Regions from separate parts of the Homo sapiens genome. Here regions 1, 3 and 4 are each linked to region 2. The links come from fine-mapping of genetic effects on gene expression. A gene starts in region 2. Each other region holds a variant in brackets. All regions are shown on one strand. Distances are from middle to middle. Region 1 has its middle 24 kb from the start of TMEM18-DT. Region 2 holds the start of TMEM18 (transmembrane protein 18). Region 3 has its middle 56 kb from the start of TMEM18-DT. Region 4 has its middle 13 kb from the start of TPO.

What was found. PIP is the estimated chance that this variant, and not a neighbour inherited with it, causes the effect. A credible set is the group of variants that fine-mapping cannot tell apart.
Region 1: its variant is the best candidate, but not a certain one, in a credible set for the expression of TMEM18 in whole blood (INTERVAL, PIP 0.50).
Region 3: its variant is the best candidate, but not a certain one, in a credible set for the expression of TMEM18 in whole blood (INTERVAL, PIP 0.59).
Region 4: its variant is the best candidate, but not a certain one, in a credible set for the expression of TMEM18 in gastroesophageal junction (GTEx, PIP 0.59).

Annotation. Positions count from the first base shown.
Region 1 is chr2:650,938-656,084 of GRCh38, forward strand. No RefSeq gene overlaps it. Among named protein-coding and RNA genes, the nearest start is that of TMEM18-DT, 24 kb to the right of the region's middle. The variant G/A (reference allele first, on the strand shown) is at 2,278.
Region 2 is chr2:675,016-680,162 of GRCh38, forward strand. TMEM18 (transmembrane protein 18) reads right to left here and starts at 2,391. Exons shown (of 5, transcript NM_152834.4): 1 at 2,274-2,391; 2 at 495-615. The coding sequence starts at 2,330. It overlaps TMEM18-DT (TMEM18 divergent transcript), which reads left to right and starts at 2,357. Exons shown (of 3, transcript NR_183417.1): 1 at 2,357-2,458; 2 at 5,029-5,136. RefSeq lists enhancers at 1,666-2,431, 2,334-2,433, 2,464-2,533 and a silencer at 1,924-2,173.
Region 3 is chr2:618,965-624,111 of GRCh38, forward strand. No RefSeq gene overlaps it. Among named protein-coding and RNA genes, the nearest start is that of TMEM18-DT, 56 kb to the right of the region's middle. RefSeq lists an enhancer at 1,326-1,915. The variant T/A (reference allele first, on the strand shown) is at 2,396.
Region 4 is chr2:1,397,834-1,402,980 of GRCh38, forward strand. It overlaps a transcript of TPO not described here. Among named protein-coding and RNA genes, the nearest start is that of TPO, 13 kb to the right of the region's middle. The variant A/T (reference allele first, on the strand shown) is at 2,120.

The DNA of each region.
Region 1 (5,147 bases), 24 kb before region 2:
AATTAGTACCACATGATGGCTGAGGCCACTCCGCATGGATCTGTGTCTAAGAGGGCCTGGCAGAGTGAACTTGCGGCTCGGCTCGGTTTTGTTTTTGAGTGAGGAACTGCACAGGAGATTGCTCTTCAGAGGCTGCAACGGGACCCCCACACGTCCCTGCATTTAGAGGCGAATGAGGTAGAAAGATCAATACCTGAGTTTTCTTATTCCTTGTGGCTGCAGCAGATGTCATCGTAAAATGGCTCCATCACCTTGGAGGCATGGTCTGACGTGAAGGAGACGGTCCTGCTTGGCCCATGGAGAAGGCTCTAGTGCGTCTCGGAGCCACCATCATTTTTTTCCCTTTCCATTCATACCTGCTGCCGGCAAAGGACCCAGCCTTTGGGATTTACAGAAAATAAGGAGTTGAACTAAATAACAAACAAGGGGCTGCTAATTAGAGCGTATGAGTCCATTTTCATCCAGAGCGTCTTATTCTATCTTCCTCATGCATGGGCTCTGCATGGTTCTGCCCAGTTCCCTCTTGCCTGGTTTTTCAGTTATTTGTGGATTCTTAGAAATTCTCCATATACTCTGGACATAAATGTCTTTGCTAATTATTAATCTGTGTGCTGCCAACCTTCTACCAGTTTCTATGTTTTCAAATGACTTGAAGATGTAGATTTTGTTGTAACTGGCCCATGATTCTTGTGCATCTTTACGGCGTAGACAGTGATGCTTTGATGCATGCCTGTGCCACTCAGGTCAGGGTAATTAGCATAGCCATGCAAACACTGACCACGTCTTTGTGTAGGGAACACTCAGTATCCTTCCAGCTACTTGAAACTGTCTATTCTTGTTTACTATAATCTTCCTACAGTGGTGTGGAACAATAGAACTTTGAAAAGATAAATTCGTATTTTTAATGTAGTCAACTTTGTCCATTTTCTCTGTATTGTTAATGGATTTTTAGATCTTGTTTAGAACATTTGTCCTTGCACCAAAGTCAGAAATCTGTTCTCTCATTTCTCCTGTAGAAGGTTTAGGGTTTCAGCATCCACAAGTCCTTGAGCCATGGGAATTAACAGCTGCTGAGCTGTGAGGTCAGAGGCACACTCAGCCCGGGAACCATGGGCTGTTGTGGTGCCCGGTGAAGGCCTGGTCCCCCAGCTGCAGCCCATCCTTCCCACTGTGGCCTGTACCCAGCTGGGCCACACCTGGGCGTGTGGGAATTAATGGCTGCTGAGCTGTGAGGTCCGAGGTACATTCATTCCAGGAACCGTGGGCTGTTGCGGTGCCCGGTGAAGGCCTGGTCCCCCGGCTGCAGCCCGTCCTTCCCACCACAGCCCACACCCGCTGGGCCATACCTGGGCCTGTGGGGCCACCTATGAGTGCTTCCCTTCACTTCACCCAGACCGCAGTGCAGGAATTGCCAAGAATCCGTGAGCGGCCGTGGTATCCGTCAGAGCATGGGCTGCTCCTGTCCTCAGGAGTCTCTTGGCAGATCCAGGGCCTTTGCACTCAGGGTCACTTTCAGGTCACACTGGGCTGGGCTTGACTCTGCAGACCAATCTGGAAACCCCTTATGTGTGACATCAGCTTTTCTTACCTGTCAATATGGCATATGTTTCCATTAAGCCATCTTTACATCTTTTAAAACAATTTTGTAATTTTATTCATAAAAATCTTGTACATATTTTAGATTAGTTTCTTGGAAACTTACAATTTTGGTTGATATTGTAAAAGACATCTTTTATAAAATGCATTTCTAGCTGTCTATTTTGTTATAAAAACAAATTGATGTACATTGATCTTTATATCGAGTGATCTCCCCCAACTCTCTTGTTAGTATTTATCATCTATCTATATCTTATTTTGGGATTTCTCTGTAGAAAATATCATCTACGATTAAGAACACATTTTTTTCTTCTTTCTTTCAAATTCTTACAACTTTTGTTTGTTTTGTTTATCTTACTCTAGGATAGTGTTTTTATTTTCATAAGATTTCTTCTTTTCTTCTGAGAATGTCCTTATTCAACCTTTATTCTCAAGAGTTGAATTGATGGACATGGTTTCTGAGCAGCTGGAGGCTTCCTGTCTCTGTTGCTGGTGAGAATTTGCCTTTCACCTAGTCGCTGTTCCTTTGCAGGGAGGGAGACTCTCTCTGTGGCTTCCATGCTCTTCAAGCTTCCTGTGTTGGGCTCAAGTTCATGACCCCTGCCCTACTCACTTGACTGCTGGTCTCCATCTTTCCATTTTATTATCATAATTTTAATGGGGACTTGGAAGAAGCAGAGA[G/A]AAACAGCTGCTCAGCTGTCCACCTTGACCAAGGAACCCAGCACGGCCACAGAACCGACCTGAGGTGCGTAGAATGAGACCTGCAGGCTCAGCTGTCTTTCCGCAGTGTCCTCCCACATCCACACCTTCCATTTCATCGGCTCCTAAACCTCCTGCTTCTCCAATCTGGGCCTACCCCCAAGTGATGTCTTTTGAAAAATTAAAAACATATTGAACCTTAAATACAATCTTGTATGATTGCATAGTTTTCTCACAGACTGGGTACAGGCCACAGTAAGATTGCTGTAAATCAGTGGCTCTGTCAAGTCTTCCCCGTGGCTGAGATAATACAAGTGTTCATGCTTTCCTTCAACGCCTAAACGGTACGTTCCACATTGTCTAGGAGCTTGGTTCACTTCCACCTGGACTCTCAGCTAGGGGTGGGGAGCCACAGAAGGGGTGGTCAACTTCTATCACCGGCCCCAGTCTCTGCTTCCAGCTTGTGGACTTTGTATCTGTATGACCTTGACAGCTTCTTGAAACACCAGCCACAGTGCCTGGCGTGTAGTAGCCTCGCATATTTGGGTGCCAGGGAGCTGACCCACTGGAGGTGGAGGTCCTGACAGTGAGCTGAGGCTGTCCTCATGGCGTCCACTGTGGGAAGCATGGGGCACCTGGGGCCTGGGGGTTCCCATCCATTTCCCAGGGTTCGCAAAACATATGCCTCTATCTACTTCTTAATGTGGGACAAATTCCTTCTCGTACCCAAACCATGTTTCTCCATGAGGTTCTTAGATTCTCCTCCCAAGCACCCTTTTCCAGCACAAATTTATTATTTCCCTGCTGTGCTGCAGCCCCGGCTCCTCCTGGCTTCGTGCCTCACACACCTGCCGCTGTCTCCTGACCGGGTCGCAGTGTCAAGTTCTTTACACATGTGTACGTGCAGAGCGGACACACAGACACCGGAGAAGGTGGGAACACATGTGGATGTGCAGAGCGGATGCACAGACACTGGAGAAGGTGGGAGGTGGGGAGTAGCTGAGGGCTGGGGAATTGCCTGTGGGATATGATGCTCACTATTCGGGTGACAGCTGCCCCACCTTCACCACCACACAATCCATGCGTGCAAGAAATCTCCACCCATCCCCTCCAAGTATATAAACATATGATGAGAAGGAGAAACACTCTACACAGAGAATGTGACCCAACCTTGCTTCTCTGTCCACTTCCTGCTCAGCTGGCACACAGAGTAGAGCATGGGCACCTCCCAAGACCACCATGGCCTCCTGGTGAGGAGGCAACACCACGGGCTTCCAGATCTCCTTGTGTGTTCCTCAAACTCTCCTTGCCGCTGAGTGTAGGACGCTGTTTTCTGTCTTCGGTGCTCGCTCTTCTGACATCAGAGATTGACAGCACTGAGTCAGGAAGGAGAAAAGGACTCTGGCTTTGGGCCACGACAGCTCCAGATCCCATACCAACATCACTGTGGACTGCAGAATTTTTCATTTTTCTGGAAATCTCTTTTTTCATCTAAAATATGGAAATAATATCATTTACCTTACAGGGTTGTTGTGATGAAATGGTTCACTCAAAACCACTTCCCAGGAGGTTTCTGATGTAAACATGGCTCCCAGCACTGGGGCACAGGGAGGACAGGCTCTGCCCTCGGGATGCACACCTTCCAGTGTGCATTTAAGGAAGTGCAAGCGAGTTCATCAGGGAGCAGAATGAGTTTAGATAAAACTTCTGTAATATAATATAAAGTGGGGCTTCTGGGTGGAGATGAGTGGGTGACACTTTAGATGGGGGCCCAGGAAGTCCCCTCTGAGGAGGTGATGGCCGTGCAGAAGCAGATCAACATAAGCCTCAGCCAGAGGCACGCTCTGAGCAGAGGCGGAAGCCTGCTGGGGCCACTACGAGGAAAGACACTTGTTCTACAGGATCAGTGCGGGTGCAGCACTCTGAGTAAGTTACCATCCTAAAAATGAGGCTCTCCGTGGAGGCCACGTCACAAAGGTTGTCATACACGTGGTGCAGGCATTGGGTTTTATTCTGAGGACCTAAGAGCGATGGAAAATTCACCACAGCTCTGCACAGGCAAAGGAGGTTGTCAGATGATGAGATTTTCTAAGTGAAGTATTTGAGTCTCACAGAGGAACATATGTATTACACATCAAAGTTATAAAGCCTAAGAAAAAATGAACACTGTGTTGTCTATGGCAAGTAGAACATTGTCAAACCATTAAAATATACCTGGACACTCCTCCCCCAAGAGAAAACCACATAATTAATCACACAGAAAAAATCAGCAGTGGCTGATTGCATTTTCCAAAGACGGCACAAGACAAGCCCTCATCACACTTGCTCCTTCACAGTGGGACTCTGACTTTGACACACCTACCAGGATATGGGGTGCCGTGTCCCTGTCCTGGGTCCCAGGCAGTCTTTGTGACTTCCCCTGTGAGTGGGATGACATGGGATGAAAAAGTGATGCACCTTGTTGTCTTGAGACTTTTGTTCTTGGAACCAGCCACCTTGTTGTGAGGCAGCCCAAGAGGCCATGAGGAGGCCTGTATGGCCTGCCCTGCCATGGCCCCAACCCACAGCCCTTGCTGCTGATCAACACCAACCAGCTAGTCACAAGGGCAAGTCCATGTGGAAAGTGAAACTTCCTGCTGCCCCAAGCTGAAGTGTATGAAGCAAAGGCAAGCTGTCTCCTGGGATCTCTGCCCAAGTTACAGATCTGTGAGCAACACTGTGACTGCTGCTGTTTTCATTAGCTGAGGCTTGAGGTTGTTCATCACAAGGTACTAGTAAGTAAAAGAGATTTTGTACCAAGACTGGGGTGCAGCCATAAGAAAACCCAATGCATGTGTCCTTAGTGCTGGGAA
Region 2 (5,147 bases):
GTGCCATGATTTCAGCTTTTCTGAATAATCTTTCTCAGTCATCCTGTGCAACTCCCTAACTTCTCTAAGTTCTGTAGCCCTTATCCTTGAAACCAAGTTGGGCAATGCCTTATTTTATGCACAGAACTTTTCTTTCCCAGTTTGCAATCTTCCTCCCATTCAAAGCAGTGCATGAGCACAGCTGCCACCAAGGACGCATCTTGTGTAAAAGACAGCACTTCCGGAAACCCAACTCTCCTGTGTGCAGCTGGTGCTCAGCACCTCCCTGGTAGGCAACAGGAACTCAACAGATTCCTCTCAACTCTAACATCCAAAAAGTAGTTTTCTTTATAGCTTCCAAGAGTGAAAAACGGGAGTGCCCTGGGAGCAGGCACATGACAGAGGGTTGGGAGGTCTTGTAAAAATATGTATATATTTCGAAGACACAGACAGAACATACACAGTTTCATTTCACACAGTGATCTGAGTTGTGGAGTTTGTGTTGTTTTACTCACCTAGACACAGAAAGTGCCCGATCTGTAGTCTGTAGCTTCGGGAGGACAAGCAGGTGAGGAGCACGCAGAGCGCGTGGAAGGTGGCCAGCCCCATGAGCCAGGGCTCAGTCCAGTCCGTCTGCTGTAGGAACACACCAGCAGACACTCACTGTCCTGCCACTCAAGGCCGGGTTCACGGCCCACCCACAGCCTTCTCCCAGCGCAGGAGGCAGGGGCCTCTCACTCCTGAGTCCTCCTGGGCTACTCACCAAGTATCCAGAGAGCATTGCCAGGCCTCAGAGAAACATGGGGACAGGAAAGGGAGAAGGAACCAGGAGGATGGAAACAGGATTCTCCCCTCAGTGCAACTATAATTCATGGAATTCAAAGTTCAAGCACACAGAACTGAAGGCATCTCTGATGTGCTCCTTTCGTTTGTGGAACAGAATCATGTTTTTAAGGTGGGTATAATTAAAGGAATTACCATCCTTTACGATGATAATTGGTTATGATAATTGGTGACGACAAGGAAATTAAGACGATTGCTCAAAGAGATGCACTTGGCTCAGCCCCAAAGGTAAAACATGAATCATCATTTCAGACTCCTTAGTCAGCACTGAAGACCTCAGGGAATCTTGAGCCATCGCCACGTGCAAGACTTGATTTTCTCCAACCTCTCTGCAATACACTGAACTCTCCAGACAGTGCCGCACTCCGCCGCCTCCTGGACTCCCCGGGACCCTGCTGTACCTGGGGACAGTGTCTGGCTCAGGGACCTGAAGTAGCCAGGCTCAGATCCACTGCTGCTCAGTCCCCACCTGATGCTCAGATGCCAATCCCAGCAGTCCTCAACCCTCCCCATCCCCTCCTTGAGCGCCCTCCTGCAGAAGACAAGCCCTGCCCTCCAAGCTGCAGCCCCGCCCTGCCCTCCAAGCTGCAGCCCCGCCCTGCCCTCCAAGCTGCAGCCCGGCACAGCCCTCCAGAACTCCTGTGTCACTACTCTCTGCTGGGGACCGCAGCGGCTTCTCCAGAGCCGCGCCATGACATAAGGACACAAGCGCATCTACTCCCATCAATGCACCCACCAGAAGACCAGAGGCACGGAGGTGAGGGGAGCACGGCTTTCTGCCCAGACCCCATCGAGTGCCCATGTCACCCCTTGGCGGCCACGTGGGGCGTGGGCTCCCCTGGGATCTGTCAGACGAACCCGGCACGGCGCACGCCCCGCCCACACTGGGCAGCGTTCCTCCGTGCCACCCCACACGATCAGGCTCCACCACGCACGCCCCGCCGCACTGCCAGAATCCGCCCACATGGCCCAAGCCCCGCCCGCAAGACGCTGGACTGGCCGGCGTGCACCTCCCACACGAACAAAGCCCTACCCCTCGCGCTCCGCCCACACAACTCAGCCACGCCCGCACGGTGCAGGACGCCAGCCCAGCCCAAGCCCGGGCCACAGAGCGCCGGAGCCAGCTCACTGCGCACGCTCCTCCACAAGGCCCCGCCCGGCCCCGCCCCTCCCCGCCCAACGGCCCAGGACCCCGCCTAGCGCTCGCGCCCCGACGCCCGGCCCCGGCCCCCTCCCACAGGGCCCAGGACCCCGCCCACAGCGCGCGCCCCCGACGCCGGCCCCGAGCCACTCCCACAGGTCTCAGGACCCTGCCCAGCGCGCGCGCTCCGCCACAAGGCCCCGCCCACGGCCGGGGCCTTCTTGGCCACAGGCCGGGTGCTCTGTGGGGCCTACCCTACGCCTCTCCGCCGTCCTCCCCCGAACTGGTGGTTACGCGGGCCGCGAGTTACCGTGAGCACGGCTGGGATGCTGACGGGGAAAGAGCTGACAGAGAAGGCGGACGGCATGGTGTTGGGAAGCCCGCTCTCACAGCAACCGCCGAACCCGGCCTGGCCAGAATCCACAGAGGAGGGCGCCAAATCCTCTCTCGTGAGATCTGCCCTTCTCACGAAACTTGCGCTTGCTTCCTCTCGCGGTAATTTCATGGCATTGCTAGGTCCAGATATCGCGATATTTCCTGGTGGTCGCTGTAATACGGAAAACTTACTACGCTGCTGTGGGACTTGTGCTCGCTCCGCCAGGAGGCCGAGGGCGTCTTTAGTTCGTTAACAGAGGAGCAGGCGGAGGCGGGTGGAATTTAGGAGGTTTGTTTCAAAGGCTCAGGGCGCTGTACCGCCACGCCAGCCCTGTCCCACCTGGGACTCCCTAGAAGGGTCAGAGCATCAATGAGGACGGTGTCCGCCCCGAGACCCTGCAGGAGCCGGGGACATTGCCCACTCCTCGGACCCTGCAGGACTTGGGAAGGTGTCTGCTCTCGCGACCCTAAGGGCAGTGCACTCTTAGTCTGGGTCAGCTTAGGGTTATCTGTCTTCACTTTGGAGATTTACCAGATGTTCTTACGCTTCACTTCGTTGTTCAACGACAGATACAAAAATATAAAGTTAATTTTCTTCCAGCGAATTTTTTCCCTTTATTTTAACATCTATACCCCAACTTTGACATTTTCAAATTAAACATTCTGTTATTTTAACATCATGAATTATTAAGTGTATATACTTTAATTGCATATGTTAGCTCTTGAACTAGTTTAATGTTTCTAAAAATAGTTCTAGTGGTGGACTTTTTTTTTTTTTTAATAGCTTTAACCCCTCCCAGATCTTTCTTAAAATCTTTCCACAGTGTGGTCATTTCTGCTTATGCTACTTAACATGCATTCTCTCATTTCAGTGTAGAAGGTCATGGTTTCTTCTTATGGGAAAACATTTCTTTCATTGATATTTTTCTCTATTCTTCCTGTATTCAACTCCAGGAACATCCCGTTAGGTAGATAGTGCATCTTCCTCTCTTTTGTGTTTCTCAACCTTCCTCTCAAAACATCACGACTGTTGTTGCTGAGTTTGGGAAATCTCGGGCTTGGCTTTCCTGGTTTTTTTTTTTTTTTTTTAAGACGATGTCTCGCTCTGTCGCCCAGGCTGGAGCACAATGGTGGGACCTCGGCTCACTGCAACCTCCGCCTCCTGGGTTCAAGCTATTCTCCTGCCTCAGCCTCCCGAGTAGCTGGGATTACAGGTGTTCGCCACCTCACCTGGCTAATTTTTTTTGTATTTTTAGTAGAGACGGGGTTTCACCATGTTGGCCAGGCTAGTTTTGAACTCCTGACCTCAAGTGATTTACCCGCCTGGGCCTCCCAAAGTGCTGGGATTACAGGCATGAGCCACCGCACCCAGCTGGTGTGATGGTTTTCATCTGTGTCCATTCTCACTCCCCTGTGTTTGTTCAGCTATTTTCAACAGGACCTTTCAGTTACAGGGAATAGATCTGTCCTCTTCAGTTCAGCCTGTTACTGTGTATCTCCCTGATGATATTTCGTTACTATGTGAAACATCACTCTTATTAATTTCCATGGGTTAGTTTCATCGTCAGTCCTGTCTGGTGCCTGCCTTTCTTTTGTGGTGTCTGTTTTCTTGTAACTTCTGTAATTTGGGGTCAAACTCTTTTTGCTATTAATATTAACCACAGCCTATCTACGGTCACTGGGATTTTTTCTCTTCATCTTCCCCTCAGCCGCCCTCCCAGATCTTTCATATATTGTGCGCCCTGGCACCCAAGTTTCCAAAATTGTTAAAACTCTGGCCCTCAGCAGCTTCACTTTCAGTCCCAGGACATTCATCTTCCACATTCCTCCCGCCCTGCCGTTCTGAACAACGCTAGGCTGCCGGACATTTAGACGTGAAGCTTGTGCAATGTCGCCAGTCTGAGATGTGCTTTAATTTCAAACATACACCATCTTTCAAAGACTTTGTACCAAAATGTAAAATACATTATCAACAATTGTATTATTTTGCTTACATGTTGAAATTATATTTTGGACATACTGGACCAAATAAAATATATCAATAAAATTAATCTCTTTCTCTTTGCTATTTTAATGTGGCCAGTAGAACATGGCCTGCTCTCTCTGTTGGTATGTGAATGCTGACATGGACTCTATTCCATTTACCTGGAATTTTGTGCTTCCAGAAAAGACTGGATGAAGCCCCTCCCCTCCCTTCCCCTTCCCTCGCCACCCTTCTCTTCTCTTCCCTTTCCTTTTTTTTTTTTTTTTTTTTTTTTTTTTGCGTTTTGCTCTTGTTGCCTAGGCTGGAGTGCAGTGGCAGGGTCTCGGCTCACTGCAACCTCTGCCTCCTGGGTTCAAGCGATTCTCCCTGCCTCAGCCTTCCGAGTAGCTGGGATCACCGGCGTGTGCCACCATGCCAGGCTAATTTTGTATTTTTAGTAGACACGGGGTTTCACCATGTTGGCCAGGCTGGTCTCGAACTCCTGACATCAGATGATCCGCCTGCCTTGGCCTCCCAAAGTGCTGGGATTACAGGCGTGAGCCACCACGCCTGGCCCAATTTTGTTTATTTCTAAAATAGCTATTTAATCCACATACAATTGGTTTTCAAGAGCTTTATTAATGGGTAAAATAAGTTTGTGAGCTGTAATGTTTTCTACAAATTAAAGCCAGTACTTGATAGCTTTCTTGTTCTTTGCATTGCTCAGGTCCCAGCAGGCAGCTGATTGTTTAGATGGAGAGACCACAGGGGAGAGTTACCTGTTGCTGTGGGAGCAATGAGGAGTTATGGAGGAAAGGAGAGGTACCAAGACCAGGTCTGTGCCCT
Region 3 (5,147 bases), 56 kb before region 2:
ACCTGCCCTGTGTCTAAAGGAGAACAGGATAGATCCAGGTGCACAGTGAGGGATTTTAAAACACTTGTATGTGAGCAATGTTAAAACCACAGTGTGGAGGAATCAATGCAAAGAACTGAATGAAATTTGTAAAATGCTACTATTTATGAAAAATTCAAAATAAAAATACATGTGGACAAGATGACAATGCATATTTTATATAACTTGTGGAAAGCCACATAGTAAACACTATGGAATGGCTGATGGAGGCAGAGGGAAAGAAAGGAAGAAAGGAAAGCAGAAAAGAGGAAAATCAGGTGAGGTGGAGGAAAGAAAAAGGGTCAGAGGCTTTGCTCAAAAGAGCAAGGAGGACCATGTGCTAGGAGGGAAAGATGGCGTCCACTCCTGTCTGCCCCTGCGACCAACCTGGCCAAGCAAAGCAACGCAGCAGAGTGGAGTGAGGAGAGGCAGGGATGACAGGCAGGCTTCATCCAGCGCTTCTCTCAAAACTGCTGCCTGTCATTTGTGCTTTCATTAATTAATATAATCTTAGTTTTGATCTTAAATCAACACTATTTAGCACCGCACTACGTTACTAAACAATACGTATCCACTAAGAGAGAACTTATACATTGTGTATCTAAAATGGCACAAATTAAAAGTATTTTTAAGTATTATAAAGGTTTACATTTAAATGCTTTGTGTTTTACGTTTCCTTCTATTTCCCAGGGTCCCCTTTTTCATGCAGGGCAGAGTTTTGCTTCTATTTCGTTTTGCTTAGGAACCCTCCCTCAAAGTTCAAGGCTAGATGCACCTATGAAGTTGCAGTAACTTGCTAGCCCTGGGAACCTGCACTCCAGTTAAACATCCTACCTTTTCTGGTCACACTTTAATGACTGGCAGCAGAGTCAGGCAATGGGGACCTCCCCTCGCCAGGCCCTGTGCCTGAGAGGCCTCTCTGGGCAGGGTGGGGTCTGGGTGCAAAGGCTCCCGGGAGGGTGACTGTGGGCATGCAGGAAGAGGGGCCTGCAGCAGGGATGTGCCCATGGCTTCAGCAAACTTCCCTCTCCCTGAAAACTAGAAAAACAAGGACAAAACCACGAAAAATCAGCATGCTCAGGGTACTGCAGAATTTCAGAAAGGTGTTCCAAGGTGGGAATGCCGCAGGAGTGTGAGCCTCTCACCACAGCCCTTCAGCTCCTGCTTGGACAGGCACAACCTGGCAGGGAAAGGCGGTGTCTGCAGCCCGCAGGAGGAGACGCTCTGCGGGGAGGGCGATCGCCCAGAAGTGCCCAGGAGTTGGCTTCGGAGTCGGCACAGTCGTCTCTCCTCCCTGACCATGAGGAGGGGGGCAGAGGTAGCCCACCGGTGACATTTTAGCCAGGGTTAATGGCCATAGCGAGACCAGCGAGGGTATAAATGGTTCAGGAAAAAGGTAATCATTCAACTGTGAAATTACAAGGAATCTGGGGGGAAAAAAGAAACAGAAACTTATTTTAGAATAAATAGCTCCGTTCAGCTTAAAAATGAATTGCTCATTTATCTTAAAATCCTTGATCATCACCAGATTCCAGCATTCATATTTATAAGAGAAAAACAACAAAAAATTAGTAGTTCATTTCATTTTCCATCCTGACTCAGAGAAAATCAAAACTGTGGCTGAATGTCTTTTCTAAATTAGTGGCATGTGGCTGGGCGGGTGACGTCATCGCTAGACATCTAGGGTTGCAGCTCAGAGGAGCCCCGAGTTCTTCACGTGTGGACCCTGCGAGCAGCCGAGCTCTGGGGTCACCGCGTCCCCGCTGCGCGTTGCGGAGGCCACGCCAGGCTGCCCGGATCCACGCGGGAAGGCGGGACTGGGGCTGAGAGAGGCCGCAGCTGCCCGGTCCAGGCCTGCGGCTCCTCTGTCATTATAATTAGGGTCCATTGTGCTCCCAGAGTTTCTTGATTTGGGTGAGAGATGATATGGTGATCCTAAACTCAGCTGTGAGAACGCGCGCTCCGGAGCCAACTGCCTGCCCTGGGCCTGGTCCTGCGCCTCCCACGGCCGCTTCCACCTTCACGCGGCAGGTACGACGCCTCCCCGCAGGCTGCCCAGGGATTCAGTCCCCACCGTGCATACAGTCGGTGCCACATAAACGCTTCCATCCCCGGAGCACAGGGAGCCACGCCCTCAGGTCGGCCTGCTCCACTTCCTTCCCAGCCTCCGGCTGGGCGCGCCCCTCTCCGCGGTCCGGTCCTTGGAGGCCACTTGGGGGCCGCGGATGTCCGTGCGCTCTGGGCTCAGGTCCTAGAGGCGCTCCGAGGTCAAGGGGGCGCGCAGGCGAGTCTGAGCCTCCTCCGCCCTGGGGCGCGCGCAGTCGGGAGCCTCCCTCTCTCCCGGGAGCCCTGGTTTGGCGACTCAAAGGCGGAGGTG[T/A]CCCTGGAGAAAGCTCACATCAAGGGACCAGACCCAGCGCCGGTGCCGGGGAGAGGAGAGAGGGCCCGGCCATGTCATCTGAGGCCCCGAGTCCAGCTGTCACCTTGTCTCCAACTCTCCTTTCCAGCAAGTAAACCCCGCTTTTGCTTGAGGCAACACGGTCATCCAGACCCTGAGAACTGAAGAAACCCTGGTTTTCCACCCGATAGGGCCGCTCCCTGGGGCAAAGCCTGACTTCCAGGGGGCGTCTCCTAAAATCGGTTCCCAGGTTACGTGGAGGTACTGGGGGAGTGGGATGTCTTCTGCGCTCTCAAGGAGGACTGTAGAAAAACGTCTTGAGCGCTAAGAACAAAAGACCGTCACAGGGGTTGGCCCTGGGGACCAGCCAGAGCGGAGCTGTGCCTTCGCCCCGGTCCTGCGGCCGCGTCCTGGCGAGTGGAGACAGCACCCTAAGCGGCGGCCCAGGCAGGGAGAGCGCGTCCTGAGAACAGGCAGCCCACCCCACGTGGCCAGAGCTCTGCTAGGGTAGTGTCCAGGCAGAGCCCAGGCCAGCTGGGATCCGGCGCTGGGACCGCAGACCCGAACAGTGTGTTCTCCCGGGTGGCTGCGTCCCTCTCGGCCTTCTTGGAGCCCGTCCCTGTGTTTTATTGCACATTAGGGCAATTGTTGTGAACTCACCCTGGCGTGTTCCCAGGCGAGCACGGCCACCTTCTCAGGTCCCTCTGCGTACACGCATTTAGATTCCCACAGCTTAAACAGACACAATGCAGGAAGCAGCCCTTCCCGTGCCATGGAAAGATGGCATAGATTTCTGAAAGTTGAAGCCTCTTATTTGCCATCAAAGTTCAGGAAGATTTTAAAGACCTTTCCATGATGTCAAAATGAAGAACAGTATTACATACAAACAAATCTCAATTTGCCTCGACTCTAGTGAATCTCACAAAGCTGATTTGCCTCTTTTCAGGAGAATGACTCTCACAGTAAGTCAGCAAGGTTACGTAGATGTTCATACTGCCGCTAAATAGCTGGGAGCAAAACACCTTCACCATTCTGCAGGGTTACCGGAAACGCTGTTTCCAATTCTAATTTATTTTGATTAGCATTACGTAAGGTACACGGCCACAGCCTGGCCTTTGATGAATTGCTTCATCTTCCAGGCAGTTTCACCTGACGGTTTCCGATGATGCTTCAAACTTCATGGGAGGAAGAGGGGCAGCAGCTTGCATCTCATCAGCTCCCTAATGGAGCGGCAGCCAAGCTCAACTCATTATCTTACTTTGGAGTCACTCACCCAGAGCTGTATGCATCAGCCGTTAGGGATTTTTGAGGCCTGTTATATTTGAGACTAACATGGAAATAAAATATGCATTTCTTTTTGTGCTGTTCCCTCCTGAATTTTTTCTTTATTAGTTCTGGGGGTTGCATTTATGGCAATATAAAAGGTCATTTTCTAGTCCTGACTTTCACTGTTGCTTATTTTCCATGCTCCAGATAAAAACAAACTAGAAGTATGTTGGAAGGAAAATGCATTATGATACTTTAACAATATTTCATAATGAAATAAATCTTGGGTTGTATTTGAGCTATTTATGCAGAAACAAAAAATGAGTGGGCTCATCTGTAAAGGTCAGATGACATTTATTCAATAGAAGCATTGTGAAATACCAGGACAGGAATATGCCCCATAAAATAACTTATTTTCAGATTTGTGTTAAGTCATGAATTCAAGTTAGAGGTCACATTTTGTCCAGGCCTAATACCAGCTTTCCAGTCACTGGTAGCATTGACATCCCCTTGGACAGAGAAAGCACATATTAAAAATTTTAAAAGCCAGAAAGGAAAGGAAAGTCACTGCTGTTGTTGACCAATCTTTCTGTGCAAGACCCTGCGTGAGGGTCTTTACCGATGATTTCATTTACTAATTTTGGCATCAGCCTGGGAGAGGCATCATTATTCATGCTGTGCACGTGAGGGAAGTAAGGCCAAGAGACGTCACAGAACTGATTCAACACGCACCTTTAAAGCCCACCCATATTTCCATGATGCCAACCCTAAACCATGATGTGACCTGCTCCTGGGAAAATGTCTGCTGTCACAAGGTAAAGGAAGATGATCTTGTGTTCCCAGAGGCATGCTGGGCATTCAACGTGAGACCGGCTTTCCAACCAGCTGCAGGCGCTGGGGCCAGGAGCAACACTGCAGGCTGTGCTGATGACTGCTTCAGCTCTGTGCTTCATTAAAAGCTGAACTCTCCATCTCCTGGGACCCTAAATGATAGATTATTCTCATTCCTGACATCAGCAGAAGGTATGGTGTCTAGGTGATGCCACAGTCAACCGAGGTCACCAGCCATGGGCTGGGGCGGCGTGGGTGCTGTGTGAGTGTCACCCTCTAAAGCAAATGGAGGATGGTGCTGGGGCCCTGGAGCACTGAGTCTGTAGGCAGAGGAGAAAGGAGCTACCCGTTCACAACGTGGCTTCTAGAAGTTTCTTCAGCCAAGGAAGTTCTTCTTCCTGCAGAACCCTGAAGCTCCATTGTCCATTGATAACTAGAGATTGAAACAACGGAGAGGCCTCGCTGATCAGTTTAAGGAGAAATTCCATGTTTGTTTTCCTGTTTCCATGAAGGGACCTTTTTTTTTCATTTTTTATTGATGCATAATAGCTGTATATTTGCAGGGTACATGCAATATTTCAATACATGTCTACAATGTGTAATGATCAAGCCAGGGTAATTGGGAACATTTTTATTA
Region 4 (5,147 bases), 720 kb after region 2:
CTCTCCTTCCATCAGCCCCCAGCAGAGCATTTTCAAACCCAGACACATGTCAGAAGCTCCTTTATCCAGCTCCCATGGGGCGTACCTGGGGTCAAAACTTCCAGAGTTCCAAATATGCACCTTGTGCAGAAAAAAGTACTTCCCATGCCACAAACAAAGGGTACAAGAAAAGTAGCGTTCCGCACATTTTCAGGCATGCAACTTCATCTCTTGGTTAAGCTCCACTTCCAGACAGTGAAGGAAAATAAATCCAGTCAACTCCAAGAAAAACCAGGCATAGTTTTCATTCCTCCCTCACTCAGGGATGACTCCGGTGAGGGACAGGACTGTGGCCAGGGCTTCTGTCTTTTCCCCACTCTCTGCTGGCATCTCCCCATCAGTCCTAGGGGAACCACAGATGCCTGCTGGCACCCAGTGATGTGTGGTGGCCTCCCTGTATCCTGCAGGCAGCCTGGGGCCCATCTCCTGACTGCCGCGCTGCCCACAAACTACTGTTGCCTTTGGATCACTTCTATGCCAGCTCTGGCACGGCTGGAAACTTGTGGGTTTCAATCAGGCCATCTCCCCAGACACCCACACCCCACGCCTGCCTGGCTTCCCACTGCAAACAAGGCTGGCCACCACCCGGCACCAGCTCAGAAGCAAAGACCACTCCATGGGTTCTCAGACCTCACCCAGTGGGCGGCTCCTGTTGTGGCCCCAGCATTGCAGACATCACAGGCGGAGACCTCTGTCCCTTCTCTGCCTCCCCACAGCTCAGCATTTATCTAGCTGGGCAGGGAGGGTCTGGACAAAACTGCAGTGGGAGAGGTCATGAATATCACCTGGTTCATGTGCAGGCAAGCCCTGGTTTCCTCCTGCACCGCTTGCGTGGGGGTCTCTATCTCTGGCTTTGTGGGGGTGCCCTTCCCCCAAGGAATGGGGTGCTGGGGCCAAGGCTCTCCTTGCAGCCCAGCTGAGGATTGCAGGGGCCAGGGAGTGCAGAGAAGGTGCCTGGAAGGTTGTGCCCCCTCACCTGCAGCCATGACCCAGGACTGACAGAGGGTGGGGGGCGCTGGCACCAAACTCCTTGAGCAGCCACTGCCAGGCCCCTGAGGAAGCTCCAGGCCCAGGAGGCTGGGCTCTCCCTGCAGCCAGGCCCTCACCTCCTCTGCAAGCCACGCTCACATTCTCCTTTCCAGGAACCAGACCAGAGACATTTCTTCCCTCTTCTGTTTCTTGGAGACCAGCCCCACCTTCCCTGCAGGTGCATTTCCCAGGTGGCGGCTGCAGTTGTTTCTGCAGGACAGGACTCTGGGTTCACCCATGCCCTCCTCTGTTCAGCCATCCCTCCCTTGTCTGCCCCAGGTGAGTCCTCATGAAATGTCCAGCCCCCCCGAGGGAGGCAGAGCCACGTGCTCTCCAAGCCCTCCTGGGCATCATCACCAGATTGCATTTTCTGCGCGGAGCTTCTCCAGCAGCATCAGCAGCCTGACGATGGGCTTCCAACTCTGGCCTTTCCAATACAGCAGCCCCCTTATCCAAAGGAGAATCTTTCCAAGACCCCAGTGGACACCTGAAGCCATGGAGAGAACAAGTCCTATGTATGCTGTGTTTTCCTACACACATACCCACGGTGAAGCTTAGTTTATAAATTAGGCATAGTAAGAGATCCACCATAACTGATAATAAAACAGAACAATTATAACAATACCCAGAATGATGCATGATTTAAAACCGATGAGTTGTTTATTTCTGGAATTTTTCATGTAATATTTTCAGACTGAGGTTAACCACAGGGAACTGAAACTGCAGAAAGCAAATCTGAAGATCAGAGGCCCTGTTGCCCACCCTTTCCATCTCTGCAGATCTCCAGTGCCTCGGGAGCCTCTCCCATCCCAGGGCCTGGGGCTCCTGCCTCCTCCCCATGTGGCCTCAATCTGCCTTCCTTGCATGAATTTCTCTGAAGGACACCTGTCTTCACTCACTCACACCTCTCTAGGAGCACCAGGTTCTGCAAATAGGAACAAGGCACATCAACGGGTGCACAGGAAAATCCTTACATGGAAATCTTACTTGTTATTTGACATTCATGTTTAGGTGAGTGTCCTGCATTTTACTGGTAGCCCCACTTAATGGG[A/T]GCTGCCACCCATGGCCGCCACCCTTCCCTCTTCTCCAGCCAGACGCCCCTGGGCTCTCTTCCCCTTCCCAGTGTGGACATTCTTGACCTTTATTTTCAGCCCTCATGTGGCACTGTCCCTGTCTATTTTCTGCAGTAGCTTCTTGCATTTAGAAAAAATTATGTTTGAAATGTTATTATCAAAGATAGGGGAGAGGCTCCTAGGTTATAAAAAAATACTTGAAGTTGCAACCAGCTATTAATTGAAAACCAAAAATAGGCCAGCTGCGGTGGCTCACGGCTGTAATCCCAGCACTTTGGGAGGCCGAAGCAGGTGGATCACTTGAGGTCAGGAGTTTGAGACCAGCCTGGCCAACATGGTGAAACCCTGTCTCTACTAAAAATATAAAAATTAGCTGGGCGTTCTGGCATGTGCCTGTAATCCCAGCTGCTCGGGAGGCTGAGGCAGGAGAATTGCTTGAATTTGGGAGGCAAAGATTGCAGTGAGCTGAGATCACACCATTGTACTTCAGTCTGGGTAAAGAGCTGAGATCGCACCATTGCACTCCAGCCTGGGTAAAGAGCTGAGATTGCACCACTGCACTCCAGCCTGGATAAAGAAGTGAGACTCTGTCTCAAAAAAAAAAAAAAAAAAAAGAAATATTTGTGACTTTACATTACATGCGTCTCAAAAAAAAAAAAAACAAATTTCACTTATGATGTGCAAAATTGCCCAAGCAGCACAAATGAAAACGTAAATTTCCTTCACGTTTCAGTGGAACTGATGCAGGCTTTTATTGTAGCTGTTAGTTTATCCAAGATTTTTATCAGCAAGAATTGAAAATTAACTTCATGTGGAGTCTTCATGTCTTGTCAAGTCAGACATTAATGGGTAAGCCAAAGGGGATCTTTTTAAAATGCCTTTTTCTTTTTACAAAAATCTCAAAAGCTGGATTCCTTTCTAATCATGTATCCTTGTGGCAAAAAATCCAGCAATACAAGTAAAAAGGACATTCCTTTTCCAAGCCTTCCTCGTGGCCTGAAGTAACTGTTGTGCGTCATAGTCTCCTGTGCTGACTTTCCAACCTGATGTCTGTCCTTGTAGGTCTGGATACTCCTCACCTTGCTGTAAGCTCAGAGAGCTTCACCTCCAGTCCCCTCCAGGAGACTGAGGCTCCCATTAGCAGAGCCTCCCATATCTGTGCCTGCAGGTTGGCCTGAGCTGTAGGCAGCGTGCACATCACAATCACCCTGCTGAAAGAAAGTCACCCTGATAAAAGTAAAACTTTAGGCAAAACACATTGAAGTGAGTTTACTTGACCATTAGAAGACTCGTGAATTGGGCAGCACTCGGAAACAGAGGAGGTTCAGAGAAGAGCGAGGGCAGTGACCTCTCAGATGGATGGGGAAGGAAGACAGAGACAATGCACCCAATCAGTTAGAGCAGGAGCCCCAGCCACAGGGGAGTTGGTGGTTTCTGATTAGTAAAGTCGCTAGTTCTCTTTTTCTGTTTACAATGGGCTTTGGTTTGCTCACTCAAGAACCCCAGCCCTGGAGCCTTCCCAGCCTAGTGTCCTCCCAGCGAGAATGCTGACACTACCCACCAGGCAGCTACACCCATGACCCAGCCAGGCCAGCTACAGCCCCATAGCTCCCCTCAGGACCAGACAAGCAGAGCCTGCACAGCCCTGAGCTTCTCCCTCTGCCCATCCTGCTACCTCCTCCTCCTGGCATGGGTTTGATCCCTAATAAGCATTCTGTACCTCAAATCCTGCCTCAGTGTCTTCTGCCAGAGTGTGGGCTGAGCAGGTGCCTTGAACCAATATCTCAGTGATGACCTCCCAGGAAACTCTAGCCTGCAAAGCCACTCTGCAGCACATCCTGAAAGTACACACCCCTGTGGGTATTTGTCTGACTGTTAGGATAAATTCCAGATTTGGAACTGTGGGTCCAAGGGTATAGGTTAGGAGTCAAAGGGCACTGAGTGCCGCGAGCCAGCCATTTACTCAGAGATCCTACCGAGCAAGCCATGAGACAAAAGCCAGCCAGACCCACGCAGGCTGTGTGAGTGGGCAGGTGGAGGGCACCCAAATGCTGCTTCCTGGCTGCTCCTCATCTGGATCAGAGAATGTTGCACAGACTTCAGGATGAAAGGGCTGACGGTTACCTCTGGCCACATCTCCATCCTGTGGATTCCGTATGCAGCCAAGTGGGCCCCAAGCCTCTCCACCTAACCAATGCCTCAGATGCAAGTGGCCCAGGGCTCATCCAGGGACCACCTGTAAAGGCCACCCTGCCCAGTGAGCTGCGGTCGGCATCCACGGGAGGACTCCCTGACTCTGGGGGCAGATAGTGAAAGAGGAAGAGTACCCCCTAAATCCCACAGGGAAGGCACAGGAAGCAAGACTGCTGGTAATGCCTGGCCCCGTGGAATCTCCAGACCCCGAAGGACCTGCTTAGGAAGAGACGGGAGCACAGAGCAAGCAGGGAGCCAGCCAGTCTGGGAGCCAACACGGAGCCAAGGGGGGTGGGGGATTTCCTGTTTCCTCAGTGAATTAGTCCATTTTCGTGCTACTGATAAAGACATACCCGAGACTGGTCAATTTATATAAAGGAAAAGAGGGTTAATGGGCTCACAATTTCATATGGCTGGGGAGGCCTCACAATCATGGCAGAAGGTGAAAGGCATGTCTTACATGGTGGCAGGCAAGAGAAAATAAGAGCCAAGCAAAGGGGGAAACTTCTTATAAAACCATCAGATCTCATGAGACTTACTCAGCACCAACCAGGAGAACAGTAGGGGGAAAACTGCCCCCAGGATTTAATTATCTCCCGCTGGGTCCCTCCCACAGCACCTGGGAATTATGGGAGCTACAATTCAAGATGAGATTGAGGGGGGACACATCCGAACCATATCACCCCATATTTTGTACATCTTGAATTTGGAAACTGAGCGCCAGTTTGTTTCTCCAGAAAGGTTCCCATCTGCATTTCCACCAGTGGTGAATGTGTGAGTCCTTCATTTCCGGCATCCTCATTGGAGCCACCA